Homo sapiens: one gene and its partners. The protein of the gene in region 1 interacts with the protein of each later gene in a pairwise test. Each region holds a gene or a part of one and is shown in the gene's direction. Other genes may lie near its edges.

Region 1 (7,849 bases):
TTAAAAATGTAATTACAAAACAATTAAATAAGAAAGAAAAAGTCCATCTGCCATCTCACATTAACACTACAAAATGTGATTTGACTTGTTGTTCCTCTTCCTTTTCCTTTCCCCCTTTTATTTTCAATGCTGTTGAGTAATGCCGCCTGGATTTTGGATGTACATATTGTTTTGTAGCGGTCTGAGCTGTTTGATTACTGACTTCATGGTGATTTTTTTCCCCTTGCACATCTTACTCAGAGTTACTGAACTCCAGTTTGGCTGGTTTTATTAATGCACTTCCTGCCCCTACATCCTTCCCTACTTTTCCTGTTTCCCAAACCCCCGTTTGTAGCTCTGACTGTTCTTTCTTTGCCCGTTACACCCTTCCTGACTTTCTCTTTTCTTTTTCCCTACCTTACTCTCTTTTTCCGGATCCTTGTTCCTGTCCCTTTCCCTATTCTTCCTTTCCCATCCCTTCAGTTACACGCAGCTGTTGGTCTCTTTTGCTGACTGGTGGTTTCTGATTGGTTCTGGCCATTTTTCCTTTTAAGTGCTTGGTTGCTTTCTGCTCCAGCAGCTGGTTTCAGCTCTTGCTCCATTCTAATCCTTGTCTGTGAGAACCTTGCTTTTCAGTTTCTCCCCTCTTTCCAAAATTGATTGTTTTTTCTTTCTTTTATTTGTGTGTGTGTGTTTTTTAACTGCATGCTCTCAGTCTCATCATTGTTGTATCCCATTCTTTCTTTTTAAATGTGAAACGTTTATATTATTTGGTGGGCGAAGCTAGAGTAAATGGAGTTTCAAGCTCTTTCCTCATATGGGGGATTATCACTGTACAAATCTTAAAAGACATAGGAAGAGGTTTTTTTTTTAGTTCTAATTCTACCTAAAATTGGTCTTTTCATAACAAAAATTTATTACCATACAAATTGAACACAATGTAAATTTGAAGAGGCAAAAATAAGACATTTATATTTTATGCTTCTTTTTTCAATTGGCATGTTTTATGACCTGACAACACAGTATAAGTCAAGTTCTATGGTGGAGCTTTACCCTCCTTGCAAGAGCTTTGAGACTGGTTCTGTCACTGGGCTGCAGTATGCTGACATCTTAGTTCCATTCATCTTTTCTTCAGCAGCAGCATCTTTGTAACACCTACTTACTCTAGCACTGAGAATGCTTTAAAATATGCAGTTCTGTAATGAGGGTGGAGAGTACCATAAAACAAAATAAATAAACACTTTATTTTCTCAATTCTTTTAAGTGCCTACTTTAAAGGCTTTCTTAAAAGCTTTGTTCTTAAATTGATAGACCATGTAGTCTAGAAAATTCAGAATGGTCCTGAAGGCTGTCAGCAGGGGAATCTTAGGTTTCTATATTTGTTTACTTACCTCAGACAGTAAAAATCTCTGACAGACATATTTAAAATGCTGAACATTAGGACAGGTGAAATCAGATTTATTTTATCACCTTTCCATCAATCTATTTCATAACCCATGTGGCAAGCCTCTGTTTTATTAACAGACTTCAAAGTGAATTGCTAATATAGTTTCCTATTTACTTTTTTCTGTGTTTTCCTTAGTGCAGAGATTTCTCTGTTAAAAAGATGTCCAAAGATCTTGCAAATGTATTTTCTTTGGAGTACTGATATTTGGAAACCAAGAAACTCACTTTACTCTTGTTATCCTCATTTGATAAGAACTTTAATTAAAATACTATATATTAATATTTTATATTGCTGTGTTAATTATTTAAATCACTGCTCTCAGAAATTTACATTTTAAACTAAATACTCTGTTATTGGATGTGCAACTTTATGTTCCCTAATGTGGTCCACTTCTTCCCTGCCCTTTTTTCTCCTTGTTATTTTTAGGTGAATAATGCTACAGCACGTGTAATGACCAATAAGAAGATGGTCACACCATATGCAAATGGTAAGAAATTATAATCTTCGAAAGAGTGTTTATTCTTGTGTAAATATATGAAGTTTTTATAAACTTCTAAGAATGTCTTTATTTCCGTCTTAAGACAGTTTGATTTGTGTTGAAGTAGTCTCTTTACCTGGGAGAGTATTTTATTTTTACAGAATAACTTTGTCATTACAATTGAGCTAAGTTTTTAGTTATTAAGGTGTTATGTTCTAAGTAATGTTCATCTTTTACACAGTGCAAACATGCTATCTAGTTGCCTATTAACCCAAATTGGATCCCACCTGAGCACCTTCTTTTTCAGCTGCTGTAGCTCTTTCTAATATGTTAGACTTGTCCGTAATACCCCTGGATGCCCACTGACTCTTACTTTTAGTTCTGACTTTCATTCATCTGAGCATAAGTGGAATAAATTAGGAGGATATTTTAATCACTTTTATAATTCTGGACCTGTTGCTCTCCTTAGCCCTAGAGATAACAGCCATGGGTATGGTTGTGTGTGTATCATTTTCTGTTTCATGATTACATATTATATAGTAAGGTTTATAAGTTTTTCTCATTGAGAAGGAAATTTTCTATGAATAATTTGTTACATCAGTTACCAAATTTAATCTAGACTCATGGTCTCTGAATGAGATGGAATATAAATTTAATCTGTAGCCCAGTGGTGGTTTTGCAGACTGTTCTGCAGAGCCAGTTTGGGAGAGAAAAAGGAAACCAAATGGATTGAATTCTGAGGTCTCAGCTGTACTTTAGTCTGAGCAATTAGGGTTCTGCATAAGCTTTTACTAATATCTAGAATAAAGGGGGGAGTTTCTGCTGGAGTTTTTTTTTTTTTTTTTTTGAGACGGAGTCTCGCTTTGTCACCCAGGCTGGAGTGCACTGGCGCAATCAAGGCTCACTGCAAGCTCTGCTTCCCAGGTTCACGCCATTCTCCTGCCCTCAGCCTCCCGAGTAGCTGGGACTACAGGCGCCCGCCACCACACCTGGCTAATTTTTTGTATTTTTAGTAGAGATGGGGTTTCACCGTGTTAGCCAGGATGGTCTCAACCTCCTGACCTCGTGATCCGCCCACCGTGGCCTCCCAAAGTGCTGGGATTACAGGCGTGAGCCACCATGCCTGGCTCTGCTGTTTTTTTAAAAAGTTTGAACCCACTGCTAGAGTATGGCTGTATGTGCTAATAATGTCTTAAATCAAGGAGAAATGTATCCGTATTGACTATATCCCATAAAGTCTTCAATAAATATATTTAGCCCAGCTTTTCACATAGATGATACAAATTTATCAGCATAATTTGCATTTTTCCTTACTCCTTTTATCGGTATGATACCACTGCCTCCCACTTTACCTCTTATTTTCTTTTCACTGCTCTTACAAAAACAAGTCTCTACAATTTTGATAAAAACTCAAAGTAAACAAAATAGAAAGGAGAGGCAAAGAATGTCAAATTTTCTTTACATCTAAGGGAAATATTGTGACAGAAAGAGCCTCTGACTGGAATTCAGAAAACAGACGTTCTCCTTCTAGGTTTGACTCTTTATTTACTCCGTGACAGTGGACCAGTTTTTTAACCTAATTCTGTTTTCATATTTATAAATTGAGACCACAGATTTTTGGCACCAGGATTTTTTAAGAAATTATTGAAACTCAACCCTCCCAGCTTATTATTAGGAAATGAGACCCAGAAAAGTATAGTATTGACCTCAGATTGCAGATGTGGTATCTATTTTACCTTCCTCTTTGGGTTTTGTGAAGGTCAAAGGGCATCTGTGAAAATACATTGTAAATTTTCTAAAACTAAATATATTCAAAGTATTACTAACAACATGTCAATATACATCCATTATATTGATTTTTGTTTTTGTTTTGAGGCAGAGTCTCTCTGTCACCTAGGCTGGAGTACAGTGGTGCGATCTCAGCTCACTGCAACCTCCACTTCCCGGGTTCAAGCGATACTCGTGCCTCAGCCTCCAGAGTAGCTGGGATTACAGGTGTGTGCCACCACATCCGGCTAATTTTTGTATTTTTAGTAGAGACGAGGTTTTGCCATGTTGGCCAGGCTGGTCTCGAGCTCCTAGACTCAGGTGATCCCTCCGCCTCAGCCTCCCAAAGTGCTGGGATTACAGGCTTGAGCTACGGTGCCTGCCCATTATGTGGATTTAAAGGGAATGCTCAGGCAATAGTGGCATTGGTAGGAAAGAAAAAGGTTATTTTTTAAAATATTATTCTAAATTAATATTCAGGTTTAGTAGGCAAGAAACCTTCTGCTATTGTGTTAAAGGTCCTAAGAAGAATTTGTTGGGTTCCTCCTAATGAATTCTCAGTCAGCATTCTCATTTAGGTTGGTTGGAATCTCTTAATTTGTGCAGAAATGTTGCACAGTATTTGTGTAATTTGATGTTGCAGAATATTTGTGTTCTTACAATTCAAGTAGGATTTGAACCTAGATTTTGCCAGAATTTTATGTGGAATATTGAAGAGACATTGCATTTTATGAGCACATAAAATGATGAATAAGAGATTGGATTGAATCAGAGTGAATAGGTTTTCACTTGAATAATGTCTTGCTTACAGTCATTTAAATCTGGTAATTTCAATAATTCTTTTGAAAAGGCCAATTGTGGCTGGACGCAGTGGCTCAAGCCTGTAATCCCCAGCACTCTGGGAGGCTGAGGCGGGTGGATCACCTGAGGTTAGGAGTTCAAGACCAGCCTGGCCAACATGGTGAAACCCCATCTCTACTAAAAGTATAAAACTAGCCAGGCATGGTGGCACGTGCCTGTAGTCCCAGCTACTTGGGAGGCTGAGGCATGAGAATCACTTGAACCCAGGAGCCGAGGTTGTGGTGAGCCGAAACTGCGCCACTGCACTCCAGCCTGGGTGACAGAGCAAGACTCTGTCTCAAAAAAAAAAAAAAAAAAAAAGAGGAGGCCAATTCTGGCCTTTTTCTTTTCATTCGTATATTTATAGAATAGTGTGGCACAATGCTAGGGTCTTAATATAAAAAGACAAATGAGTCAGAAAATATATAATATAGAGTATTTTTGCTTATATGTAAAATTCAGTTAATATTGATTAAAGTTTTCATGTGGAATTCTACTTTTATTCACTCGCAGTGAGCAATCGTATATTATTCCTTTTTAAAAAATACTTGCCATATTCCTATAAATATAAAAAAGGGAAAGAAGAAATAAAGTTGACATTAAACATAATGTTATTTGGAAACTCTTAATATTTATAAATATTTAAGCTAATGTTCCACAGTATTCTGGTGTTCTTTAGCTAAGAAGTCTGATTAACTTAAAGGTGATTATTACACATTAAAGCCTCAGAAAACATGCACTGAAGTTGGGAATGTACCTTGAATTTTACTATTTCATGTCTTTCCTTTTTTAGTTGGTGAACCCCAGTAAAATCCCAATGGTAAATCCGAGTAAAAGTGGATTTCAGTTTACCTGGAATACCAGCATTGTATAGCCAAACATGGAGTCAAAGATCTAGGTTGAATTTGAGTTCAGCCCATGGATACCTTTATTAAAACAACTAGAGTAATAAACAGGGTTGAGAAAATGCATCACAGCATGGTTCAGAGTGACATATAGTCGGCCTTCTTTTTTTAAATGAAGGATAGGTCATCCAGGGTAATTCTGTGAGAACACTTTACCAAACTCTAGGATTTATTTCTATTTATTTTTTCTCCTCTCATTCCCTCTCCATCTTCCTCCTCCCAACATCATGACACCTGCCAAGCCCCCCAGCCCCAGCCCCTCATTATCTCTTCACTGTGTCCTAGTTCTACTACTGTTACTCTCTCATATAAACCCCAAGCTGGAATTCCAAAGAGAAGTTGATAATAGGCAAAAATAGCCCCAGAGATGGCTGAAGCCAACTTGACATGCACTGATCATCCCTTTCCTCAAACAGTCTTAAATGCTTACCTTCCATTTTGTGTGTTTCAGGTTGGAAATTAAGCCCAGTAGTTGGAGCTGTATATGGTCCGGAGTTATATGCAGGTAGTATTTAAGTAAATGTTTCCACTTGTGCTATTTAATTGTAATAGCATCTGCTGTTTTTCAATTTGTGACTCCTTTTTAATCTTCTTGCATTTTTAAATTTTTTAAAAATCCAATCAGCATCCAGCTTTCAAGCAGATGTGTCCCTAGGCAATGATGCAGCAGTGCCCCTATCAGGAAGAGGGGGTATCAACACTTACATTCCTTTAATCAGTAAGTAGCCTATGTTGGCCTGGCATGGATTTTGACTGTTGTGAGTGAACTATCATGTACTGTTTTTTTTTTTCCTAGTACAGTACATAACTGAAATGGAAATTTCTTGAGAGGGATATTAAATACTATCCCAGTGCCCTGTCCTGCTTAACCTGTGCTAGAATTTTCCTGACCAAATATTAAGATTGCACAAAGCAGAAATAGTTGGAAAAGGTAGAGGGGGTAAGGGCATATGAAGAATATTTTAGTCTGTACTTGACGATAAAGAAAACAAAAGAAGCAAGTATGTGTAGAGCATATTATACATTTCCTCTGCGAGTCAGCCACAGGTTCTCCAGCAGAGGATCACTTAGAAGTACTTCCAGTATTATTGATTATTCCCAGCTCTCTTGATCTCTCTAAGTCATTTTGACCTGAGCCATTTTACTCCAGCAAGAGGTATAATTAAACAGGATTCAGTGGACATGGAATCAATGTCTCTGCATGCTTTCCAGAGGACAGCACACTTAAAATAGGCTCTTAGAAATTGTCTGCCTCTTTAAAGGATATGAGGCCCCTAGAAATTGTCTGCCTCTTTAAAGGACAGGGTAGGAGTTGTTTCCCTCACCTTACATTTGTGGATTAAAATGTTTTAAATAAAAGAATGAAATTGACTAATGAAATGAAATGTCTAAAGACTATTATGTGCCTTAGAGGTTGGTACCATGTAAAAATATAAAAAGAATGTTCTTTTGAGTAATAATTATTATGTGGACATAGTAACATTGGGAAGCAAGGTTAATAACTGACCGGTTGAAGAGTTTGTGTCAATCTGATTTAGACTGCCCACAGTAATTAAAAGTCTGTCTCTTATTATGGCAGTCATTCTCAGAGCTTCTTGACCTGTTTCTCAGCAGCTTGCATTGTAAAGCTGAAATTGAGAAGGAACAGAGAAGCTCACTCAAGATTTGTGATGAATGAGGCATGGAATCTTTTGCTTTTGCATGTTGGGTCTCTCTTTCCATTTCTTCCCCACTGAGAGACCCAGGGTAGAACGTTTATTGAATGCATGCCACCTTTTCCAAAAAGGTGTGGTTCGTATCTTTCCATCTTTTCTATAATTGGTTCATAGCAAGTTGTGACTGTGCACCTTCTATTGAATGCAAGTTGAAATTTCTGTCATATTTTGGGTCTCCCTTTAGTTCCTGGCTTCCCTTACCCTACTGCAGCCACCACGGCAGCCGCTTTCAGAGGAGCCCATTTGAGGGGCAGAGGGCGGACAGTATATGGTGCAGTCCGAGCGGTACCTCCAACAGCCATCCCCGCCTATCCAGGGTAAGCGTTAGATTCCAAAATCAGTATGTTTCTAAAATAAGCAGTTGGACCAAAAAAGAATACCATGGCCCTTTCATAACTTCTGGGATGTTGCCGTGTCACAGAGTAGGCATTCAGTGAATATTTGCAAATTAACAGATTAGATGACAAAAAACAAAATATACCATCATCAGAATGTGACAAACTGTCAATTCATTATAAGTCTTCATTTTGGCCACCTTAAGCCCTCATGGTAATGGCTTAAGACAGTAGCCAGAACCGTCTTGTGTTTACTAGCAGTGTGTTGGCATGAAGTTCACTCAGAAGCGCACGAATATGGATTAACATTACTGCAGAGAACCAAAAGAGGAGCTCAAGATTGTAGTACAAGCCTGCATCTGCTGTGTTCACCTCCTTATCAC
Region 2 (7,968 bases), on another chromosome or scaffold:
CCCCCGCCGCCATCTCCGCCCACTCCCCATCCCAACACACACACAAATCCCAAGGCTCTTCCCCTACAAACACTCTAGTTTGATGTTCAAGGCCAACCAAAATCTGGCATCAAATACTCTCTGTGGAAACTCCTACCCTAACACCTCGTACTTTTCCACTTCCCAAGTTCTGTCATTGCTGTCTCCCAACACTCTTTGCTCCGCCTCGAGATCAAATCCACCTCCCCGGTGTGGTCTTACAATGGCTTCCGGGCAGGCAATGTTGGTGCTCACCGGTATTTTCACAGCATTTTTGTCTTTAGCCTTTACGTGGCAGTTATTAGTTAACTTTTTAAATGTACCTGCACATGCTATTAACTCCCAGCTCAGCCTGTAAATGCCTTAGGGTTAATGATATGCATTTACATATAACAGGTACTGGAAATATTTAAGATATTCACATTTGAAATGTTTCATTTTCAATCTTTTAAATAGTACCTGATAAGCCATCTCACAATTTAAAAGTAAAAAAAATTTTAAAAAGTAAAAAAAAAAAAAAAAAGCGCCATCTCGTAATTTAAAAGGATGCTCAAATCTATTAAGACAATAAACAATTATTTTGCGAAGATACCAAGAATGCCCCAATTCCTTTTAGGAAAATCTAAAGACTAAGATTTTTAAAAAGAACACTGGGACAAAAAGCCATAAAACCCTAAATCTTATATCCAAGGAACATTATAGTTCTTTCGAGAACTCTATGGTGATAAAGAAAGGTTTGGAATACTGCAAATTTCTATTTTAAATGTTAAGAATAGCAATAAGCAAATAGAGCCAATCAAATTTAACAGAATAGAAAATATGTTTCCACGCCTGGTTAATTACTGATGTTAGAATGTGGAACCATTTTTAGTGTCAACATATTAGATGACAATTTTTCACAGTGAAAAAACCTATTATAGGGATCTTCAACTGGAGGCTCATTCTGTATATATACTCACTACATGTTGTAATTTATTTTCAATACTGTATTAAGATAACATTTTTGTAATAATGTAATTATTACAAAGTTAGTCTTTCTACATTTTTTTTTTTGAGACGGGATCTTGCTCTGTTGCCCAGGCTGGAGTGCAATGGTGTGATCACAGCTCACTGCAACCTCTGCCTCCCTGATCCTCCCACCTCAATCTCCCAAGTAGCTGGGTCTACAGGTATGTGACACCAGACTCTGTTAATTTTTGTATTTTCTAGAGAGATAGGGTCTCACTATGTTGCCTAGACTGGTTTCAAAATCCCGGGCTCAAGTGATCCACCTGTCTTGGCCTCCCAAAATGCTGGGATTACTGGCACAAACACCGCACCCGACCCTCTGCAGCTACTTACTCCTCCTAAGCATCAGCCCTCTCATCTCTGAAATATGGCTCTTCCTGCCTACCTCAAATATTGGCTGTAAGGATGAAAATAAACAATGAAGATAAGGGTTTTGCAGAGCTTCTGGTCCATAACAAGTACTTAATACTTCTTTTGGACATATATTTAATAAGTGCCTACGTGTACCATATGCTGATCTAGGTGTTGGAAATTCCTAATAGAAGAAACTCCTTTTTCTCATGGAGCTTACAATGTTGATGCCAGTGGCAAACGAGTTGACCCATTGTTACGTGGAAACAAATGGTATGAAAAGAACCTGGGGTAAGCAGATGGAAGAAGGGAGGAAGTGTTTGCGTGCACAAAGGCGCCATTTTACATAGGGTGTTAAGGGACACCTTCTAAAGATAAATAGGGGCAGGGGTCGCCGATGTATGGGGAAAAGCTTTCCGAGGAGAGCAAACACCAAGGGCAGAGTCCTGGGGAGGGTAAGCATGCTTGGAATATTTAAGGATCCAGACGGATTCCACGGGGGTGCAGCCAAGTGGGCTGTGGGAGGAGAAGGACATAAGGTCAGTGATGCACCAGGGGCACACCTGTCGTCTTGCAGGACTTGGTAAGCTCTTCGGATTTTTTCTTTCTTTCCTTTTTTTTTTTTTTTTTTTTGAGATAAGAAACCATTGAGGGACTGTCAGGAAATGAGGTGATCTACATAGATTTGAAAAGGTAACCTGCCAGGCACGTGGCTCACGCCTGTAATCCCAGCACTTTGGGAGGTTGAGGGGGGCGGATCACCTGAGGTCGGGAGTTCGAGACCAGCCTGACCAACATGGAGAAACCCCCGTCTCTACTAAAAATACAAAATTAGCTAGGCGTGGTGGCGCATGCCTGTAATCCCAGCTGCTCGGGAGGCTGGGGCAGGAGAATCACTTGAACCGGGGAGGCAGAGGTTGCAGTGAGCCGAGATCGCGCCATTGCACTCCAGCCTGGGTGACAAGAGCGAAATTCTGTTTCAAAAAAAAGAAAATTAACACACAGTAGCTATTATCAAATGCTGTAACCGTAAGTGATTTAATACATAGGAAATGAAAATTGCCTATCATTGTTCTTTAATCTGGTTTAAGTGGTTGAGCCTTATGACACTGCCATTTCTATGGGTCAAAAATGGTGGAATATTGTCATAAAATTCAACCTGATTTAAAGGATAGGGCAAGGAAAAAAAGCAAAAAAAAAAAAAAAAGCTTTAGAATAAAATATAATTGGATTATAATCCCAGACACAGGACTCACTAGCTATATTCTTGGGCAAGTTACTTAACTTCATCTTTCTTGGGTTTCCCCTTATTTGTAAAATGGGGATAACAGTCTAACCTAAGCCCAAGTTGTACTGATGATTAAACGAGATATGCATGTAGGGCATTCAGCATAGTGCCTAGGAGCTTAATAAATAAGCAGGCCATTAAGAAGGGGATTGCATCTTTTACACTAGCAGCATCAAAACCTTGATTTTGATTTTTCTAGGTACTGAAACAGCCTTCATTACTTAGAGACCATAGCTTTTTTGCAAGTTACTATTCCCTGCATTTAGAAAGTTCATCTTTAAACAGGCAATTCAGTAAGTAAATATTCTATGGCTCTAAAACAGATACGGCTGTTGGAGACTTTAAAACATCTGACAGTTACATTTTTAATGTTGTCTACCAAGGCTATTACATTTCCTCTGTCAAAGTAACTTAATTTTAAAAACGAACTCTGTGCTTGTTAAACGAAAAGGCCAGAAGGCTACTGGCTACTCAGCGTTCATTTGAAATTCTTATAGTGCCTTCAGTACAATTCAAACTTAGAGGTGATTCTCACAATTCATGTGAAGCAACATTTTACAAAAAAAATCACCTACGTTCACTGTTAAGTCAGAAGACAGAATGATTAACAAAATCTCAGCCGCGAATTACTCTCACGATGGCCAACTGGATATTAAATAACTCTGCATTATTTTAATGGAATGTTATAAAGGATTTGCAACAAAATGCAGACGTAGATTTAGGGACTGCCGACTTCTATAGATCAAGGACTTCATTGGTGCAGCTGAGGAAATTCTTCCAAACAAGTCTAAATGTTGGAAATCCACCAAACTGCAGAGAAAGACCTCTTGCCTCCGTATTCTTTCTTCATCTGTAAAAATGTTGACTTCTGCTTTTCAGACTACGCGCACAGCCTCTTTATTTCCTACTGCGGCTTCATTCCCTCACGGAACACTGACGCCATCGCGAAGGAAGCATTTCGAGCACGACTGACGCTCCCCTTATTATTTGCTAAGCCGCTGCGCTCGGGTCTGGCTACGATTTGCTTTCAGAATAACGGGAAGGTGCAACAAGATCGCTTCCCTAGAGGCGCGTCGCCCGCGTGGCCCGGACCCCCCACGCCCGCCCGCCGCCCCGTGGGTGCGCACGCGTGTCCGCGCAGGCTTCCCGCCTGGCGAGTGCAAGGCTCCTCTCCGCCGTGCTGCTTTCCAGCCTCTCAGCAAATCACGAACACCGAAAGAAGCCACGGCGGCGACGGGAGGGGCGTCGCGCGTGCTTCCCTCGGCGACAAAGCGGGAGCCGGGCGCGCCGGCCGAGGGCGCCCGGCGCAGAGTCCCGCAGAGGCGGACGCCGCGGCACGCGCCTCGAAAAGCCTCAAACTCTTATCCTCGGCTCTCCCGCCCCACCTCCGCCCCGCAGCCAAGACCCGCGCCGTGGCGGGCCCGACGGCCAAGGAAAGCCCACCAGCCCTCCGCACCGTGGGCGACGGGCCAAGACCCGGCCCTAAACGGCCAGACCCAGCCCCTAGTCGGCTGCCGCCCCCGCCCCACGCAGGCGCGCTCCGGGGCCCTCCCCTCCCCCACCGCGCGCTCGCGGGGCCCGACGGGGGCGGAGCGACCCTCGGAAGGGGCGTGGCGACCGGGCTCGACGCGCGCACGCGCTCTGGAGCCCCACGGCTACGTGTCGGGCCACGTGATGCCCACCCCGAAAGTCCCCCGTGAAGCAACAGGACGTTAAAAAAAAATTTCTCTTCTGCGGGGTGGATAAGAGGTTCTGAAAAAACTATAGTAACGGGAGGCGAGGCGGAGGCAGCGCTGGCGCGTCCCGCTGGAATTCCTCTCGCCTGCCGCGCCAGCCCCGACCGCGCCCGCAGCCCCACCCGCCCCGTGCCGTGGAAAGCCCCGCGCCCCCCCCGCGGCCGTCGGCCCCGCAGCCCACACCCACCCGCCCCGGGCGCCCCGCACGGCGGCGACCCAGTCCTTGCGCCCAGGCCCGCCGAGCGCCGCAGTCCGTCACACTCCCGTTGCCCCCGTCGCCCGCCCCGCCGGGGAGGCAGGGAGGAGGGGGCGCGGCGCCGGCGGCTGCCCCGGTCGCGGGGCGGCGGGCAGCAGGCAGCGGGAGCGCGCCGGCCGGGACCCGCTAACGGCCGCCCTGCGCGGCCCCGCCCGCCGCCCGCCCCCGGCCCTCCCCGCGCCGCTGCCCCTCCCCCCGCCGCCGCCGCTGCTGCCGCCGCCGCTGGCAGCGCCGCCTGAACTGAGGCGAACTCCGCCGCCAAGTGAGTGAGGAGGAGGAGGAGGAGAAGGAGGAGGAGGAAGAGGAGGAGCGCAGTCGGAGCGCGGCGGCAGCGGCAGAGGCGCCGCGGCGGGGACCAGCCCAGAGAGACCCCCCGAGCCCGCGGCACAGGCGGCGGCGGCGCTGAGCGGGCTCGACCAGCCGAGCGAGCGGCGGCCCCGGCTCCTCCTCGTCCGGCGCCAGCAGCCCGCGCCCCGCGCCCGCACTCGGCCAGCCGAGACCCGCCTCCCGCCCGCCCGCCGGCCTCGTGAGGGACGCGCCGAGCCGGGCGGCCGAGAGCGGCGGCGGCTGGGAGCGCGTCGGGCCCGGGCGGAAAGTGCCTGCGGGGGGCGGGCGAGCGCGCGGTGCCGGCCGCCCCGGGGCTCGGCGCGGGAGCCAGAGCGGGAGCCGGCGCGGAGCGGGACGCCGGGTCCCGAGCGGCCCGCGGCCGGGGCTCGCCCCCGCCCCTCCCTCCTCTCCGGCGGCGGCGGCGGCGGCGGCGGGCGGAGTGAGCTGCGGAGCCTGGAATATGGTCGGGGAAATGGAAACGAAGGAGAAGCCGAAGCCCACCCCAGATTACCTGATGCAGCTGATGAACGACAAGAAGCTCATGAGCAGCCTGCCCAACTTCTGCGGGATCTTCAACCACCTCGAGCGGCTGCTGGACGAAGGTGAGCGTCTCCAGGGCCCCGGCCCCGGCCCGACCCCCGCCGGGGCGGCCCCTTTCCCCGCTTGGGATGGTGGGGAGGGCGGGAAGGTCACGGCCGGGCGGGACCGAGCGCCGGGGGGACTGGGAGGCCAGGAGGGCGCACAAAGGAGGTGCCGGGCCGGGCTTGCGGCGGGCGGGCGGGCCGGGGTGGACCCGCCGGTGCCGGACGCCCCCTGCCCGGCCGGGACCCCGCGCCGCTGGCGTCCAAGTTGGCGCGTTGCGGAGGGCTGCGGGGTGAGCCCTGCGGCCCCTCTAGCTTCGGCGGTCACATTTCCGAGAGGTCGGCGGGGGCTGCGCGGACTCGGTGGTCCTCGCCGAGCCCTCCCGAGAGCAGGCCCACGCCGCGCCGCCGGCCTGGAGGACGCGTGTGCCCGGCGCGGGCCCCGCTCCTCCGCTCGGCCTCCCGAGCCTGCTCTGCGCGGACCCCCACCGCCCCGCGTTCGGGAGCTCTCCCCTCCCGTGAGGACTAAAGCGGGGTTTCGTGGTTGGGGAGTTGGTGCAGCTGTTCAATACTAAGTGGAAGTCAGTGTGGGGCTCGTTAGTTTAAAGAAATTCCGTAGGAGACCGAAATTATGCTGGCGTAGCCGACAAGGAGGACTAAGTGACGGCGAAAAGCACTTTTTTCCCTTTTGTTTGGGGAAGCGAGAACTGTTAGGGAGTTGAACTTCACTTTTCGGGGGTGGGGGGGGGGGGGGTGGAGTGCGAAATAACGCGATGACAGATCGGAGCGCAGCCTGAGTTAGAAGAACTTGGGCGGAGGGTTTGCTCCCGGGGACGCAGCCGCCTGAGTTTGTAGGACAGGGTTTCGAGACGTTTGGAAAGGGCGAAATAAAATTGAGCCAAAGTTTCCAAAAAGCTGTATGGAGCGCTGTGGGGAGTGAAGAATGACAAGAAGATTAATGTTGACCAACTTTGGAATTTCCTTAAGAAGTTCTCATAGCAGTACCTGAAGTATTAATTTCTAGTAGCTGTGGGTTTCTGTGGACGCCTAGAGAAAAAAAAGACCACAAAAAAAGTCTGTTTCGAAAATCGACTGGCCAGGAGTTTGTTTGTTTTTTTTTCCTGCTTAGAGGCACCACCGGAGGACTGTGTAAAGGAAACTGAAAACTACAGGTTGAAGAGATGAACAATGGAGTTTAGATTTTTCGCAAGAATTTCGAGATTTTAAAAATAGAGTCGGGGAACAGGAGTTTGAAGCTTGGGGAGTTGGAATGTCACTAGAGAACAAAAGGCCGGAAATGTTTCCATGATAAAAAATGGTTAAAGAAAAATCCCAGGAGTTCTGTTGTCTTGAAAGTCATAGAAACAACTTAAAAGTAGAAAATGGTTAGGTGTTACGGCTTTCTCGTCGTTTTGCTTCCGTATGTTAAACATACAGCACTCACCAACGTTGAAATGGGCATTTTCCGCTGTTGGAACAGCAAATCTGTTAATTTCAAGTTGCTCCAGAGAAAACCTGAGCTGTCCCTTTAAGGGGTTCTGCTTTTCCTATTTGTGTTGGCATTTGAAAGATTGTGGAGGCAGAAAACTTTCTGGAATGTCAAAAAAAAAAAAAAAATGCTGGAACTCTTAAATTGAGTATTTCCAAATGTGAGCGCTAAGGGGCGCCAGTTATTTTTTAACCATGGAAATGGTTGGAACAAAATGTGTAACATACTCAATCTGACTGACCTATATTAAATTTAGTTGAAACTTAAGTTATAGATTATTTGATTTGTCATAATGTGTTTATATAGTGTTTTCGAACATTGAAAATACTTTCCTTAAAATTATTGGCACAACTTTATGACGTTTCAAAATAACACTCTTACTGTCTTCTCCTTGGCATATTTTGGTTAAGTTAAAGTTTTAGTAGTATTAGTAACAATTTCTGGTGAAAGTTTGTTTTCTTGAGTGCAGTTGTTTAGAAGGAATCCTTTATCGACGATAAAATGAAAATAGGCCTTGGCAATATTTAGGGTTAATTAAAATTAAATTGCATTCCTGAAATGTCGAATTCAAAGACTATAGGAGATTCCAAAAAAAAGTTTGAAAATACTTTCACCTTATGTATACTATTTAAAAAGCTGCATACTTTTGCGTTCTTTAGTTTTAAAAGGCTTCTTGTGCTTTTATGTTGATCTAAAATCTCTAAATTTAGAGCTGATTCCTTGTTATCAAGTTTCCAACCTTAGGCTTTAATAATTTTTAATCTTTCAAATCCAGAAATTTCAATTATGTCATTGTCTCTGACAAAGGCTTATTTCTCTCTGGTTGGAAATAGTACTCGTTTGCGTTTTAAATGTAAGAGACCACTATGATATCTCCTAGATAATGTTTGTTTCCCCTTCCCCTTTTAATGTGG
Region 3 (7,849 bases), on another chromosome or scaffold:
TCATGTTTCTTTCATCTAATAAAGTTATTTTAGCAAAGTTGGTGGAAAAACTGAATATTTTTGCCACAAAATAATATATCTCAATTTTTTTGGCTGGGAAAAAATTTATATACATAAAGATGCTTAAGTATATTCCATGTAGTTACATCATTAAAGGAAAAAAAATCTTTCGTGATGAAAATATCATTTAATATAGCAAAAGTAATTAGAAGTAATTTAATAATTTAGACTTACTAATGAGAAAAATTTTAATTAGAAACTAATTTAAAATTAATCAGAGTAAAAATATTGAAAGTGAAAACATAGAACTAATATCAGAAACTCGCTGCATGCTGTGTACTGTAACCCAGCCAGGTGTGTCATAATTTTCAGGGGGACAATCCCTAAAGCTTTAGGAATTGGCTAAATTATGTATCTACCTTCCTCAAATTTCTCTAATGCTTTCAATTCTATCTTTCCTCACTCTTTCTACTTATTAAGTTAGGCATCTTTATAGTTAACTTTTTACCTTTAATATTTATTAAAATTCCTAACAGTCTTTGGCTAGAAGGAGAAATGTGATGTAAAATTTATAACTAACTTATTTTCCCTTAGCCACATCCTAGTGTCTACGGGAATGTTTAAAACATTAGGTTATTATATATAATCTGTTAACAAATTAATAGATTGTATTCATTTGGACTGTTATGCTTTTGACTTAGAAATAATAGATATTTGGTTAATACAGTTGCCACAACTACAACAAAAAAGAGATTGATGTATATTAAGTTTAATTTTGACTTAGTATTTGTTAATTTAGGAGACAATCAAAGTATCCTCAGTAGGTTAATACAAAATGGAATGCACTAAATATGGCAGAATGCTGAATATTTTCAATCTACTGTTGTTACTTGCAAAGGTTAAGCTAGAACATATAGTAACGGTCCGTTAGCCCATTATCACCAGCAATATGTACTAAATAGTAATGCTCATAGTATGATCTACCAGTTGCTGAAATAGAAAATAAATCAGCACTATGCTGAATGCTTTCACATATACAAATAGTTTTTTCAAAACTACTTAGTGCAAGGGTCAATGTTATGAGTTTTCATTTAATCTTCATAGAATCCCATGATGTATTGTTATCTCTATTTTTGTAAATAGAAAATTCAATCCCAAAAAGATAAAGTCATTGTTTTAAAAATGTTTCTGCTGAAATACTCCTAAAGGTAGAGGAGAGTTAATCTTGGCATGTTGTGGTTCCTAACCCACTGCAGCATACTGGAATTGCAAATTTTCTTTAAAGTCTCATGATTTATGCAAAAACATCATGTATAATTTGCATTCTGTTCCATAATATCATATTGTTTATTTGAATATAAAAATATTTCCCAAAAACAATTGAATAAAACTGATTCTGTAGGAAGATTACTATGTTCAGCCTCTGCTTTTTCATATCTCCTGGTATACCATCCATCCCTTATCCAACTTTAAGAAGTATGGGGTTAAATAGCCTAATGGTGAGTGGTAGCACTAGCCTTCAAATGCAGGACTGTTTGACTCCAAAGTTCTTTTGACTTTTCTGCGAAGAAAAATAGGTGTTAAAAGTACATTTACAAATAAGGGATTCTTATCTTAGTTTTTTCTTAGATCTGTCATTTCTTTCCATCTCCATTACCAACACCCGAGTCCCAACTAACCACTTTGTTTACCTTAATTCCTGGAAAAACATCCTAAGTGGTCTCTCTGAATCCAATCTTTCTACCTTCCAATCCATCATTCACAAGGCAGCCAGAGTGATCTTTCAAAAGTGCACCTCTTATTGTCTTATGCTCAGCTTATTTTGAGGTATTCTTCCCTTTTCTTTCCATGCTTTAGCCATGTAGCCTTCTTTCAGTTCCAGAACATTCTATACTCCTGTTCTCAGAATCTAATATACTGTTTTCTTTACCTAGAATGTACTTTGCCATCCAATTCATTCTTTAGAGCTTAGCTGAACATCATTTCATCACAAATTTTCCATATATATGTATATAGAGAGAAATTTTATATATGTTTTGTATACATAATAATTGAAATGTTCAGTATCGTACCCTATAATGCCTCATGTATTTATCAAAATTGTATTTAATTAATTAATTGTGTAATCAACTAATGACTATCTTCACTACCAGACCTAACTTCTTTGAGGATACAGACCATCTCATGTCTAATTTTTTTATTTTTTGCTGTATCACTAGGGCCCTGTTCAATGCCTTGAAATAGTATGCACTGAAAATTTATTTATTTAGCAGGTAAAGCATGGTTCATTTTCTTTGAATAATGAACCATTATTGAATAATGAACCATTATCATTATCTTTGAATAATAGTGGAATATCTTTTGGGGGGAATCCATGGACCTCCAAAATTGTGTGTAAAATTGTGTTTGACTGTATATATATCTGAGGAAAAGGTCCCTGATTTTCATCAAATTCTCAAAAGGATCTAATTAAGAACCATTAAAATAAATAATAACAATACTAGATCAAATGCAGTGAAAATATAAAAGCTGAGGAGCAATAGTATTATTTAAAGTGGTAGGCCCATGCTATTTGAAGTGTGGTTTGCAGACAGTGTCATTTCATTGGAAGCTGTCAAAATGCAAATTCTTAGGCCCTGTCCCAGATTTACTGACTCAAAATCTCTGAAGATAAGTCCCTGGAATTTGCATTTTAGAAAACAATTTAAGTGATTCTAATTTATGGGAAATTTTGAGAAGCACTGGTATAGGTGGAAGAATTGTCAGTTTCACTAATTTATATAACCTTGCTGGTTAAGACCTAATCTAATTTGGCTAATTTAACTTTTAAAGTCTCCTCAATGACAAAAAATATATATATATCTATGTATATTATTTACTGTTTTTTGGTTTGTGGTGGGGGTTTATATAACTTGGCCCGGGAAAAGAGTTGGGGACCCCAGACTAGCCACATGAAGACTTGCGGTCATGTTTGCAACAGCAGCAGTTGTAGCAAAGGGAGACTAGATAGAGAATAGATCATAGAAAAGAGAGATAAAAGACAGCCATAGCATGAACGAATGTTTGCTGGTAGGATATCCAAAGAATTAGTAGGGTGGAACCAAAATGTCTTCAGGAAAGTAGAATCTTCTCCAACTTTACTGCCTCCATCATCTTTGGACTTTCAGAAATAAAAGGTCTAGCCAAGACCTTAGGAACTTCACTACAGTGTATGTTGTCTTGAAGTAACTTTAAATTATACATAATTTATATTTGTACAAATAATTACTTCGCTGATGATAGTCTAAATTGTTCAGCTTTGTGTAGCATACTGGTGTTGGAATCTGAATTGATACATTTTTGGTATTTCTTATTCGTATTGTTTTTCTTTTCTTTTAATCATCTTAAACTAAAAGCTTTAAGGTATTGAGTTTAAAAATACAGGCTTCAAAGATACTTTGACATAAGGAATTTTTTAAAAATATCTGTGACATTCAATTTTTACCATAGCTACATAGGTATATTAAGATAAATATTTTTCTGAAGTGTTTAGAAACTACATTTTTAACAGTTAAATTGAACATTTCAATTATTATTATTTAATCTTTGCTTTAGGTTCTAGTATAATGCCAGCAGCTGGAACAATGTATCTAACAACTTCAACTGGATATCCTTATACTTACCATAATGGTGTTGCTTATTTTCATACTCCAGAGGTAACTTCGGTCCCACCGCCTTGGCCTGTAAGTAATTTCATTTAAAAAAGGATTTCCATCTATTACTATCAATTTTTTAATGTTTGTTATATTTCTGAAATATCTTAACCACAGATAATTACAAATAATAACACACATCAACCAAATTAAATAGACATCAACATTTTGCCACATTTACTTAAGTTCTTAAAATGGGGAGTAAAGTAAGACAGCTTCAGGTCAATTCTCCTTACCCCCACTTCCTTACCCTCTTTCCTGTTCAAAAGTAAGCAGAATATCTTTCCTATTCATTTTATATATTTTTACTACAAATATATGTATTCATAAATGACATATAGTACTGCTTTAGTGGTTTTTATTTTTTATTTTTTGCATTTCTTTTTTTTATATACTTTAAGTTCTAGGGTACATGTGCACAACGTGCAGGTTTGTTACATATGTATACATGTGCCATGTTGGTGTGCTGTACCTGTTAACTCGTCATTTACATTAGGTACATCTCCTAATGCTATCCCTCCCCCCTCCCCCCACCCCACAACAGGCCCTGGTGTGTGATGGTCCCCATCCTCTGTCCAAGTGTTCTCATTGTTCAATTCCCACCTATGAGTGAGACCATATGGTGTTTGGTTTTCTGTCCTTGCAATAGCTTGCTCAGAATGATGGTTTCCAGCTTCATCCATATCCCTGCAAAGCACACGAACTCATCCTTTTTATGGCTGCATAGTATTCCATTGTGTATATGTGCCACATTTTCTTAATCCACTCTATCATTGATGGGCATTTGGGTTGGTTCCAAGTCTTTGCTATTGTGAATAGTGCCGCAGTAAACATACGTTTACATGTTTCTTTATAGCAGCATGATTTATAATCCTATGGGTATATACCCAGTAATGGGATGGCTGGGTCAAATGGTATTTCTAGTTCTAGATCCTTGAGAAATCGCCACACTGACTTCCACAATGGTTGAACTAGTTTACACTCCCACCAACAGTGTAAAAGTGCTCCTATTTCTCCATATCCCCTCCAGCACCTGTTGTTTCCTGACTTTTTAATGATCGCCATTCTAACTGATGTGAGATGGTATCTCACTGTGGTTTTGATTTGCATTTCTCTGATGGCCAGTGATGATGAGCATTTTTTCATGTGTCTTTTGGCTGCATAAATGTCTTCTTTTAAGAAGTGTCTGTTAATATCCTTCACCCACTTTTTGATGGGGTTGTTTGATTTTTTTCTTGTAAGTTTGTTTAAGTTCTTAGTAGATTCTGGATATTAGCCCTTTGTCAGATGGGTAGATTGCAAAAATTTTCTCCCATTCTGTAGGTTGCCTGTTCACTCTGATGGCAGTTTCTTTTGCTGTGCAGAAGCTCTTTAGTTTAATTAGATCCCATTTGTCAATTTTGGATTTGTGGCCATGGCTTTTGGTGTTTTAGACATGAAGTCCTTGCCCATGCCTATATCCTGAATGGTATTGCCTAGGTTTTCTCCTAGGGTTTTTATGGTTTTGGGTCTAACATTTGAAGTCTTTAATCTATCTTGAATTAATTTTTGTATAAGGTGTAAGGAAGGGATCCAGTTTCAGCTTTCTACATATGGCTAGCCAGTTTTCCTAGCACCATTTATTAAATAGGGAATCCTTTCCCCATTTCTTGTTTTTGTCAGGTTTGTCAAATATCAGATGGTTGTAGATGTGTAGTGTTATTTCTGAGGCCTCTGTTCTGTTGGTCTATATCTCTGTTTTGGTACCAGTACTATGCTGTTTTGGTTACTGTAGCCTTGTAGTATAGTTTGAAGTCAGCTAGCGTGATGCCTCCAGCTTTGTTCTTTTTGCTTAAGATTGTCTTGGCAATGTGGGCTCTTTTTTGGTTCCATATGAACTTTAAAGTAGTTTCTTCCAATTCTGTGAAGAAAGTCATTGGTAGCTTGATGGGGATGGCATTGAATCTATAAATTACCTTGGGCAGTATGGCCATTTTCACAATATTGATTCTTCCTATCCATGAGCACGGAATGTTCTCCCATTTGTTTGTGTCCTCTTTTATTTCGTTGAGCAGTGGTTTGTAGTTCTCCTTGAAGAGGTCCTTCACATCCCTTGTAAGTTGGATTCCTAGGTATTTTATTCTCTTTGAAGCAATTGTGAATGGGCGTTCACCCATGGTTTGGCTCTCTGTTTGTCTGTTATTGTGTATAGGAATGCTTGTGATTTTTGCACATCGATTTTGTATCCTGAGACTTTGCTGAAGTTGCTTATCAGCTTAAGGAGATTTTGGGCTGAGATGATGGGGTTTTCTAAATATACAATCATGTCATCTGCAAAGAGGGACAATTTGACTTCCTCTTTTCCTAATTGAATACCCTTTATTTCTTTCTCCTGCCTGATTGCCCTGGCCAGAACTTTCAACACTGTGTTGAATAGGAGTGAAGAGAGAGGGCTCTACGCCAATAAACTAGAAAATCTAGAAGAAATGGATAAATTCCTGGACACATACACCCTCCCAAGACTAAACCAGGAAGAAGTTGAATCTCTGAATAGGCCAATAACAGGCTCTGAAATTGAGGCAATCATTAATAGACTACCAAATAAAAAAATTCCAGGACCAGACAGATTCACAGCCGAATTTTACCAGAGGTACAAAGAGGAGCTGGTACCATTCCTTCTGAAGCTATTTCAATCAATAGATAAAGAGAGAATCCTCCCTAACTCATTTTATGAGGCCAGCATCATCCTGATACCAAAGCCTGGCAGAGACACAACAAAAAAAGAGAATTTTAGACCAATATCCTTGATGAACATTGATGCAAAAATCCTCAATAAAATACTGGCAAACCGAATCCAGCAGCACATCAAAAAGCTTATCCACCATAATCAAGTTGGCTTCATCCCTGGGATGCAAGGCTGGTTCAACATCACGAATCAATAAACATAATCCATCACATAAACAGACCCAACGACAAAAACCACATGATTAATCTCAATAGATGCAGGAAAGGCCTTCGACAAAATTCAACAGCCCTTCATGCTAAAAACTCTCAATAAACTAGGTATTGATGGAACGTATCTCAAAATAATAAGAGCTATTTATGATAAACCCACAGTCAGTATCATACTAGATGGGCAAAAACTGGAAGTATTCCCTTTGAAAACTGGCACAAGATTTTTTCTTCTTTTTTAGTTTTTTGTTTTTTACTACAAGAATATATGCTATTTTTTATTTTTAATGCTATAGTATTGCCACTTTTCACTTCTAGATCTTAAATCTTGAATTTATGTATCGACTAATCCACCTATTTCCTGCTATTTTGAAATTAATCCTCTGCCAAACACTAAGTTTCCATGTGTGTGGGTCTTTTTTCTGCTATTTTGTTCCATTGGTGTATTTGTTCACCTTGCCCAGTTGTAATTATTTTGACTTTATAACGAGTCTTGAAATCTTAAAGTACATTGTTCATCTTCAGGAGTCTCTCATCTATCCTTATGTCTTTGCTTTTATGTGTATAAATTTTTTAATTCAGTTTGTTTAGTTCAGTGAAAAGCCCTTTTTTTTATTAGAATTGCATTAAATAGTGTGAATAACTTGGGACATTTCAGTATTTTAAAATATTGAATCTTCCTATCCATGAACATGATACATCTCTCCATTTATTTGTCTTATTTTACTTCTATCCATAAAAAAGTTTTCTTTCTCCATAAAAAAGCGTGACACATTTTGTCAAATTTATTCTTAGTAGACTATAGTTTTGTTGCTTTAATGAATGCTGTTTTTTAAATAACATTTCCTAATAGATTGTAGCTGGTGTATAGTAATGCTCTTGATTTTTCAATAGTGATAATCTATCAGTAACCCTGCCAAACTCTCATTTACACAATTATTTATGATTCAGTGTACTTCTATTTCTTTCACTTCTTTTTTTCCTGGAGTTTTTGCACTGACCATGTCTCTGCTACAGTATTGATGTAGTGAAAACATCATGACCTTGTTCTTGAAAAAGGGAGCAATTTCAGTGATTCACCATTAAACTTTACATGTATGCATGCATGTATACATACATATATAGACACACACACGCATACTTTGTAAGTGGGAAGATACTCTTAACCAGACTTTCTCAATCTTAGCACTGTTGACATTTTGAGCCAGATTATTTCTTTGCTGTGA
Region 4 (8,150 bases), on another chromosome or scaffold:
TGTGTAGTTTTTTGTTGTTTGTTTTTGGTTTTGTTTTGTTTTGTTTTTTGAGATGGAGTCTCACTCTGCTGCCCAGGCTGGAGTGGAGTGGCATGATCTCGGCTCACTGCCACCTCTGTCTCCCAGATACAATCGATTCTCCACCCTCAGCCTCCCGAGTAACTGGGATTACAGGTGCCCACCACCATGCCCAGCTAATTTTTGTATTTTTATCAGAGATGGGGATTCACCATATTGGCCAGGCTGGTCTCGAATTCTTGACCTGTGTTTTAAGACAGAGACTTGCTTTGTCACCCAGGCTGGAGTGCAGTAGCATCATCATAGCTCACTGCAGTCTCCAACCCCTGGGCTTGACAATCCTCTCACCTTACTTGCCCCCTGCCAGTAGCTGGGACTGCAGAGTGCACCACCACATCCAGCTAATTTTTGTTTTGTTTTTTTGAGACGGAGTCTTGCTGTTCTGTGTCGCCCAGGCTAGAGTGCAGTGGTGTGATCTCGGCTCACTGCAACCTCTCCCTCTCAGATTCGAGCGATTCTTCTGCCTCAGCCTCCCCAGTAGTGGGGACTACAGGCACCCGCCACCATGCCTGGCTAATTTTTGTATTATTAGTAGAGACGGGTTTCACCATGTTGGCCAGGCTGGTCTTGAACTCCTGACCTCAGGTGATCCACCCACCTCCGCCTCCCAAAGTGCTGGAATTATAGTTGTGAGCCGCCGCACCCGGCCTGTGTGTGTGTGTGTGTGTGTGTGTGTGTGTGTGTGTATATATATGTTTTTTTTTTTTTTTTTTTTTTTTTGTAGAAAAGGGGCTCTTGATATATTACCCAAGGTGATCTTGAACTCTTGGGCTCAAACAATCCACCCGCCTTGGTCTCCCAAAGTGTTGGAATTATAGGCTTACAGGCATAAGACACTGCACCTGGCTGATGTTTGCTTGTTTGTTTATTTATTTGTTTTGAGACAGTCTCCCTCTGTCACCCAGGCTGGAGTGCAGTGGCGTGATCTCGGCTCACTACAACCTCTGCCTCCCGGGTTCAAGCAATGCTCCTGCCTCAGCCTCCTGAGTAACTGGGATTACAGGTGCCCACCACAACGCCCGGCTAATTTTTGTATTTTTAGTAGAGACGAGGTTTCACCATGTTGGCCAGGCTGGTCTGGAACTCCTGACCTCAAGTGATCTGCATGCCTCAGCCTCCCAAACTGCTAGGATTACAGGCTTCAGCAACCACACCAGGCCAGATGTTTAGTTTCACAAGAAATGATTAGAACTTTATCCAAAGTGATTATACCATTTTGTACTCCCATCAGAAATATATATATTTTAAATTATTACTATTTTTTGAGACGGAGTCCCACTCTGTTGCCAGGCTGGAGTGCAGTGGTGCGATCTTGGCTCACTGCAACCTCCGCCTCCTGGGTTTAAGCGATTCTCCTGCCTCAGCCTCCCCAGTAGCTGGGACTGCAGGCGCGCCCCACCACGTCCAGCTAATTTTTGTATTTTTAGTAGAGACGAGGTTTCACCATGTTGGCCAGGATGGTCACAATCTCTTTTTTTTTTTTTTTGAGCCAGAGTCTCGCTCTGTCACCCAGGCTGGAGTGCAGTAGTGTGATCTCGGCTCACTGCAACCTCCGCCTCCCGGGTTCAAGCAATTCTCCTGCCTCAGCCTCCCCAGTAGCTGGGACTATAGGCACGTGCCATCATGCCTGGCTAATTTTTTTGTATTTTTAGTAGAGACGGGTTCACCATGTTAGCCAGGATGGTCTTGATCTCCTGACCTCGTGATCAGCCTGCCTCAATCTCCCAAAGTGCTGGGATTACAGGCGTGAGCCACCACGCCTGGCCAAGATTTTTATTTATTTTTAATTTAATTTTAGAGTAGGTAATGTATTCACGTGGTTCAAAAATTAAAAAAAAAAAAAAACCCAAACATGAAAATTATCTTTCTCACCTCTGTCCCCTATCTGCTCAGAGCCCACTTTTTCCCAGTCTCACCACAGATAATCATTGCTGGTAGATTTTTGGCTATTTTTTGGTATTTCTGTAAATATGACAATATTCTGTAAATGTAAGTAAATACAGATATATTTTTTCATTTCTACCTTTTTACATAACATTCTTTTTTTTTATTTTTTATTTTTTGAGACGGAGTTTCGCTCTCGTTGCCCAGGCTGGAGTGCAATGGGGCAATCTCGGCTCACTGCAACCTCCGCCTCCTGGGTTCAAGCAATTCTTCTGCCTCAGCCTCCCGAGTAGCTGGGATTACAGGCATGTACCACCACGCCTGGCTAATTTTGTATTTTTAGTAGAGACGGGGTTTTCCCATGTTGAGGCTGGTCTCGAACTCCTGACCTCAGGTGATCCACCCGCCTCGGCCTCCTAAAGTGCTGGGATTACAGGCGTGAGCCACCGTGCCCGGCTTTACATACTATTCTTACACAGAGTTCCATACCTTGGTTTTTTTTCATTGAATAGTCTACCTTGGAGATATTTTCATTTCAGTACATACAAAGTTTCCCCATTTCTTTTTCAAGTTATAGGCTATTTCACTGCATGATGAACCAGAGTTTACTCAGTCATTTCCCTAGGTGTGGACACTAGGGTTTGTTTCCAGTATTTTGCTACTATGCACAATGCTGCAATTAATAGGTGTGAACTCATTTTATTTCACACATCTATAAGTATCTCTGTAGGCAAACTCCCAGAAGTGCAGCTGTTGAATGAAACATTGTTTGTGCGTTTATTTTGACACACATCATCAGACGATCCCCTTTCCCATCCAGCAATGTCTGAGAGTGCGAGCTTCCTGGCAGCCTTACCAATAGCATTGTCAATTTTTTGGATGTTTGCCAATCACAGTGAAAACTGCTACCTCAAAGAGTTTTAACTTGCATTTTTCTTTATAGAAGTGAGATTGGATATTTTTCATATGACTAACAGCCAGACTTAGTCCTTTGCTGTGAACTCTCCTTTTTCTATTGGGTGGTAGGGCTTTTTATTGTTGACTTCTGGAAGCTTTTGGAATATTAAAGAGATTAGCTTTGTCTATTACATGTGTTGGGACTATTTCTTCCTTGTTAATCATTTATCTTTTGACTTTGCTTATGGTGCTTTTTGCCGACCAAAGCTTTTCATAGTCATGACTTCTGGATTTCAAGTAATAATGTAGAAAAGCCTTCTTTACTCCAATACTAAAAAGGAATTTCCCCATGTTTTCTTCTTGTCCTTTTATCACATTTATATTTTATTTTTATTTTTTTTTTTGAGACGGAGTCTTCCTCTGTCGCCCAGGCTGGAGTGCAGTGGCCCGATCTCGGCTCACTGCAACCTCCGCCTCCCGGGTTCAAGAGATTCTCCTGCCTCAGCCTCCAGAGCAGCTAAGGTTACAGATGTGCGCCACCACGCGCAGCTAATTTTTGTATTTTTAGTAGAGACGCGGTTTCACTATGTTGGCCAGGCTGGTCTTGAACTCCTGACCTCGTGATCTGCCCGCCTCGGCCTCCTATAAGTGCCGGGATTAAAGGCGTGAGACACCGCGCCCATCTGTTTTTATTTCATAAACGACTGAAAAAAGACCAGAGCCAGGCCTCCTCCCTTCCATCACTAATCTTTATTGCAATAACTCCCTCCTTTGTCGTCCTGTACCTAGCTCAGACCAGACGACACCCCAAACACAAACACCAAGACACGCACCTCTTTAATACGAAATAATAAACATACCTCCCCCAGAGAGACACCCTGAACTAACCAAATCATTGTAACTATACACTAAGCCTTACATAAAAATACTAACATTTGGCCGGGTGCGGTGGCTCACACTTGTAATCCCAGCACTTTGGGAGGCCAACGTGGGTGGATCACCTGAGGTCACGGGTTCGAGACTAGCCTGACCAACATGGTGAAACCCCCGTCTCTACTAACACAAAAATTAGCCAGGTGTGGTGGCGGGCGCCTGGAATCTCAATTACTCAGGAGGCTGAGGCAGGAGAATCGCTTGAACCCGGGAAGCGGAGGTTGCAGTGAGCCAAGATCGCGCCATTGTACTCCAGCCTGGGTGACAAGAGCGAAACTCCGTCTCAAAAAAAAACCAAAAAACCCCCTAACATTCTAGTACACTTCCCTGAACTCTTGTCTATAGAAATGATCCCGCACTTCTACACTTGAAACGCTGACTTGCATTCTCTAAAATCTGCACTCCTGAGCGGGCGCCCGCAGCCTCCGCACTGGCAAAGAATCTGTGAGCTGAGCTCCGCCCCGCTCCGACCCCGTAGTGGCGGTCACCCGGGGTGTGCTCGACTCCCGGGTGCGGCCTGAGGATCCGCGCCCTGGCGTCTGGGCACACACAAAGGTTTCTGCGGCGCGGGACTATCTCAAAATATAAATTAAATACTTTTTTCACAGACAGTTAATAAAAAAACTACAGCTACACCCGGCCCTTTCGCCAACTGGGACCGGCCCACTCCGCGCTCGCGCTCGCGCTCGTCCATCCGGGCGTCTCGAGGGCGCCGGCGGGAGCGAGCACGCTGCGCAGTCACGTGCCCGGCGCGCCCCCGTCGCGGCGCGCTCAGGCGGAAGTGAGGTCGGCGGCTCCGGTGGCTGCGCAGCGTCGGCGGGGAGCGCGGGCTGCGGAGAGGCGGGCCGGGCCAAGCGGAGCCGAGCGAGCGGGAGCGCGGCGTCCGGGAGGCGGCGGAGACGCGGGGCTCGGAGGGTCAGCCTCTTATCGTAGCAGGTCTCCTCGGCACGCCCCCCTTGTTTCGCCCCACGGCCAAGCCCGCCGCGGGCCGGCGTGCGCTGGTCACTGAGGCCCAGGTCGCCGCCGCGGCGCGGTGAGTGGGGGCGGGCAGCGGGCGACTGCGCGTCCAGGCCGGAAGTGCGGCGCTTTGTGCGGCCGGCTCGGGGCGGCGCCAAGGTCGGCCCGCGGCTCGGGGTCGCTGGGCGTCTGGACCGGCCTGGGCTGCGCTTTGTGCCGCGGGCAAGGCCGGGCGGGGGCCGGGGGCGGAGCTCGGCCGGACACGTACGCGTGCAGGTGCGGTCCGGGCGGCGCGGGCCTGCCGCCTAGGTGGCCGAGGTGGCTTCGCGGCGCGGGGCGTTCTCCTAAAGGTCGGGGTCACAGCCGTCAGGAATGCGAGCGTGAAACCCGGGGGCAGAGCTTTGTGACAATAGTCATTTCCAATGTGTAACTGCTCACTTTGTCTACCCACGAAGTAAAGATAATTTTTATTTTTATTTTTTTGCTTGGCGGAATCTGAGCGTTCTCCTTCCAGCTTGAAAAGGCACGATTTAAATTACAGATTTTTAAGATTTCCTTCAGAAAGGACGTTTCGTGGCCTAGCCTGGGTTAACTTTGAAAAAAGAGTGCAGTGCGCCTTTACGACGTCCACAAATAAGGGTATTTCTGTTTTATAGTGTATGTGAACATGAAGTGTGCATCTCATGGGCTGTTTGAGTTAATGTTTAATCATTAAAGTCAAACAAGAATATTTTGCAGTGTTTTCGCATGCAAGGAAGCTTTATAAATAAAAAGGTTTATATAGTTTCCACTCCTTAAACTTTCAGGTCATCCTTGTGTAATTTGAGATCACTTTTCTCAAATACTATGGATGAAAGATTCTAGATTAAATAAAACTTTTTGGTTTTGGCAAAAACAGGACACATTTTTAAGCTCTTGTAGATGAAGGAGTGGGTTATTTTTGCTTTGACAGCCAAGATTTGAGCAGTGTAAGGCTATTCTAATTTTGAAGCTAGTGTTGCAGAAATTGTGAAGATCTTGCTTCTCTTTGTCTTTACAAAGCAGGCTTACTTTGGTGGAGTTCCGTAGTTTAAAGGGAAATTATACCCAAGTTGTCTTAGACAGTTTCTTTTCCTGGATCAATTGAGCACTTTTTTTTTTTTTTTTGAGACGGAGTCTCCCTCTGTTTCCCAGACTGGAGTGCAGTGGCGCCATCTCGGCTCACTGCAAGCTCCGCCTCCCGGATTCACGTCAGTCTTTTGCCTCAGCCTCCCAAGTAGCTGGGACTGCAGGCGCCCGCCACCACGCCTGGCTAATTTTTTTGTATTTGTTTTTTTTTTTTTTTAGTAGAGACGAGGTTTCACCGTGTTAGCCAGGATGGTCCCAATCTCCTGACCTCGTGATCCGCCCGCCTCGACCTTCCAAAGTGCTGGGATTACAGACGTGAGCCACCGCGCCTGGCCGAGCACAATTTTAAAAGAACAGTACACCAGCGTAATAGAGTAATAGTTTTTTCATGCCTTGTGTCCAGTCTGTTAAGTCTGTCTGATTGTACTGTGCAGAAATACATGAATTCCTCCCAGTAAAATGCAAACCCAAACCTTGGTAATGAAGGTAAAGTTTGGGGGAGAGAACTTCTTTTCTTTTTTCTTTTTTTTTTTTGTGAGACGGAGTGTCGCTCTGTCGCCCAGGCTGGAGTGCAATGGCGTGATCTCGGCTCACTGCAACCTCCGCCTCCCGGGCTCAAGGGATTCTCCTGTCTCAGCCTCCCGAGTAGCTGGGATTACAGGCACACACCACTGCGCCCAGCTAATTTTTTGTATTTTTAGTAGAGACGGGGTTTTACCATGTTGCCCAGTCTGGTCTTGAACTCCTGACCTCAGGTGGTCCACCTACGTCGGCCTCCCAAAGTGCTGGAGACACCACCGCGCTCGGCCTATATGCTTTATTTTTTATTTATTCATTTATTTTTTTGAGACAGTTTTGTTCTGTCGCCCAGGCTGGAGTGCAGTGGAGTGATCTCGGCTCACTGCAACCTCCTCCTCCCGGGTTCAAGTGATTCTCCTGCCTCAGCCTCCGGAGTAGCTGAGATTACAGGCACATGCCACCCTGCCCAGGTAATGTTTGTGTTTTTAGTAGAGATGGGGTCTCATCTCACTATGTTGGCCAGGCTGGTCTCGAACTCTTGACCTCAAGTGATCCACCCGCGTTGGCCTCCCAGAGTGCTGGGATTACAGGCGTGAGCCACCGTATCCAGCTTCTTTTTTAAAAATATATTTTTGTCCAGGTGTGGTGGCTCACGCCTGTAATGCCTGCACTTTGGGAGGCTGAGGCTGGCATATCACGAGGTCAGGTGATCAAAACCATCCTGGATAACATGGTGAAACCCCATCTCTACTAAAAATACCAAAATATTAGCCGGGCATGGTGGCAGGCAACTGTAGTCCCAGCCACTGGGGGAGGCTGAGGCAGGAGAATGGTGTGAACCCGGGAGGTGGAGCTTGCAGTGAGCCGAGATTGTGCCACTGCCCTCCAGCCTGGGCAACAAAGCGAGACTCCATCTCAAACAAAAAATTTGTATATATTATACATATATATGTTCATTTTGTAGAGATGGGAGTCTCACTATATCGCCCAGGCTGATCTCAAACTTCTGGGCTCAAGCAGTCCTCCTGCCCCAGCCTCCCAAAGCACTGGTGTTACAGGCACTTGCCACCAAGTCTACAAGCTCTTGTTGATGTTGCCAGACATTACTGAGAATTTCCAATGTTGATTTTTCTGAGTATTGTATCTTGTATATTGGTGTTTCTGAGAGTGAATCTAAACCTCTTAAAATTAGATTTGTTGATATAAAATTTTAAAGGCCTCGTGTTATAGTATTTCATACTTAGTGCTCTGTGTGGAACTTTGTTTAGAGATGGTATGTTTCCAAACCAGGAAACAATAGTATATAGTGATAGGTCTTTCTTTCTTTTTTTTTTTTTTTTTTTTGAGACAAGAGTCTCGCTTTGTCGCCCAGGCTGGAGTGCAGTGGCACGGTCTGGGCTCATTGCAAGCTCAGCCTCCTGGGTTCACGCCATTCTCCAGCCTCAGCCTCCTGAGTAGCTGGGTACAGGCGCCTGCCACCGTGCCTGGATAATTTTTTTTTTTTTTTTTTTTGTATTTTTGGTAGAGACGGGGTTTCACTGTGGTCTCGATCTCCTGACCTCGTGATCCGCCCTCGTCGGCCTCCCGAAGTGCTGGGATTACAGGCGTGAGCCACTGCGCCGGCCTCTTTTTTTGAGATGGAGCGTCCATGTCGCCCAGGCTGGAGTGCAGTGGTATGATCTCGGCTCACTGAAACCTCTGCCTCCTGGGTTCAAGTGATTCTCCTGCCTCGGCCTCCCAAGTAGCTGGGACTACAGGTGTGCACCACCACCGCT

Evidence for each region.
Region 2: the proteins of RBFOX2 (region 1) and QKI interact in binary tests that used the Homo sapiens proteins (3 or more experiments, as listed by UniProt).
Region 3: the proteins of RBFOX2 (region 1) and BOLL interact in binary tests that used the Homo sapiens proteins (3 or more experiments, as listed by UniProt).
Region 4: the proteins of RBFOX2 (region 1) and FAM168B interact in binary tests that used the Homo sapiens proteins (3 or more experiments, as listed by UniProt).

What each region holds. Positions count from the first base shown.
Region 1 is NC_000022.11:35,759,487-35,767,335, reverse strand, and holds part of RBFOX2 (RNA binding protein fox-1 homolog 2), read left to right. Parts: intron 1-1,852; coding exon 1,853-1,913; intron 1,914-5,867; coding exon 5,868-5,921; intron 5,922-6,041; coding exon 6,042-6,134; intron 6,135-7,303; coding exon of another isoform or gene 7,304-7,315; coding exon 7,316-7,448; intron 7,449-7,849. UniProt on the Homo sapiens protein: RNA-binding protein that regulates alternative splicing events by binding to 5'-UGCAUGU-3' elements. Prevents binding of U2AF2 to the 3'-splice site.
Region 2 is NC_000006.12:163,409,750-163,417,717, forward strand, and holds the start of QKI (KH domain-containing RNA-binding protein QKI), read left to right. Parts: upstream 1-4,968; 5' UTR 4,969-5,215; coding exon of another isoform or gene 5,216-5,427; 5' UTR 5,428-5,444; coding exon 5,445-5,586; intron 5,587-7,968. Other genes in the region: basic proline-rich protein-like, read left to right, coding at 3,457-4,336, 4,500-4,919, 5,216-5,427. UniProt on the Homo sapiens protein: RNA reader protein, which recognizes and binds specific RNAs, thereby regulating RNA metabolic processes, such as pre-mRNA splicing, circular RNA (circRNA) formation, mRNA export, mRNA stability and/or translation.
Region 3 is NC_000002.12:197,767,728-197,775,576, reverse strand, and holds part of BOLL (protein boule-like), read left to right. Parts: intron 1-3,594; coding exon 3,595-3,722; intron 3,723-7,849. UniProt on the Homo sapiens protein: Probable RNA-binding protein, which may be required during spermatogenesis. May act by binding to the 3'-UTR of mRNAs and regulating their translation.
Region 4 is NC_000002.12:131,089,889-131,098,038, reverse strand, and holds the start of FAM168B (myelin-associated neurite-outgrowth inhibitor), read left to right. Parts: upstream 1-4,578; 5' UTR 4,579-4,825; intron 4,826-4,876; exon of another isoform or gene 4,877-5,388; intron 5,389-6,075; exon of another isoform or gene 6,076-6,230; intron 6,231-8,150. UniProt on the Homo sapiens protein: Inhibitor of neuronal axonal outgrowth. Acts as a negative regulator of CDC42 and STAT3 and a positive regulator of STMN2. Positive regulator of CDC27.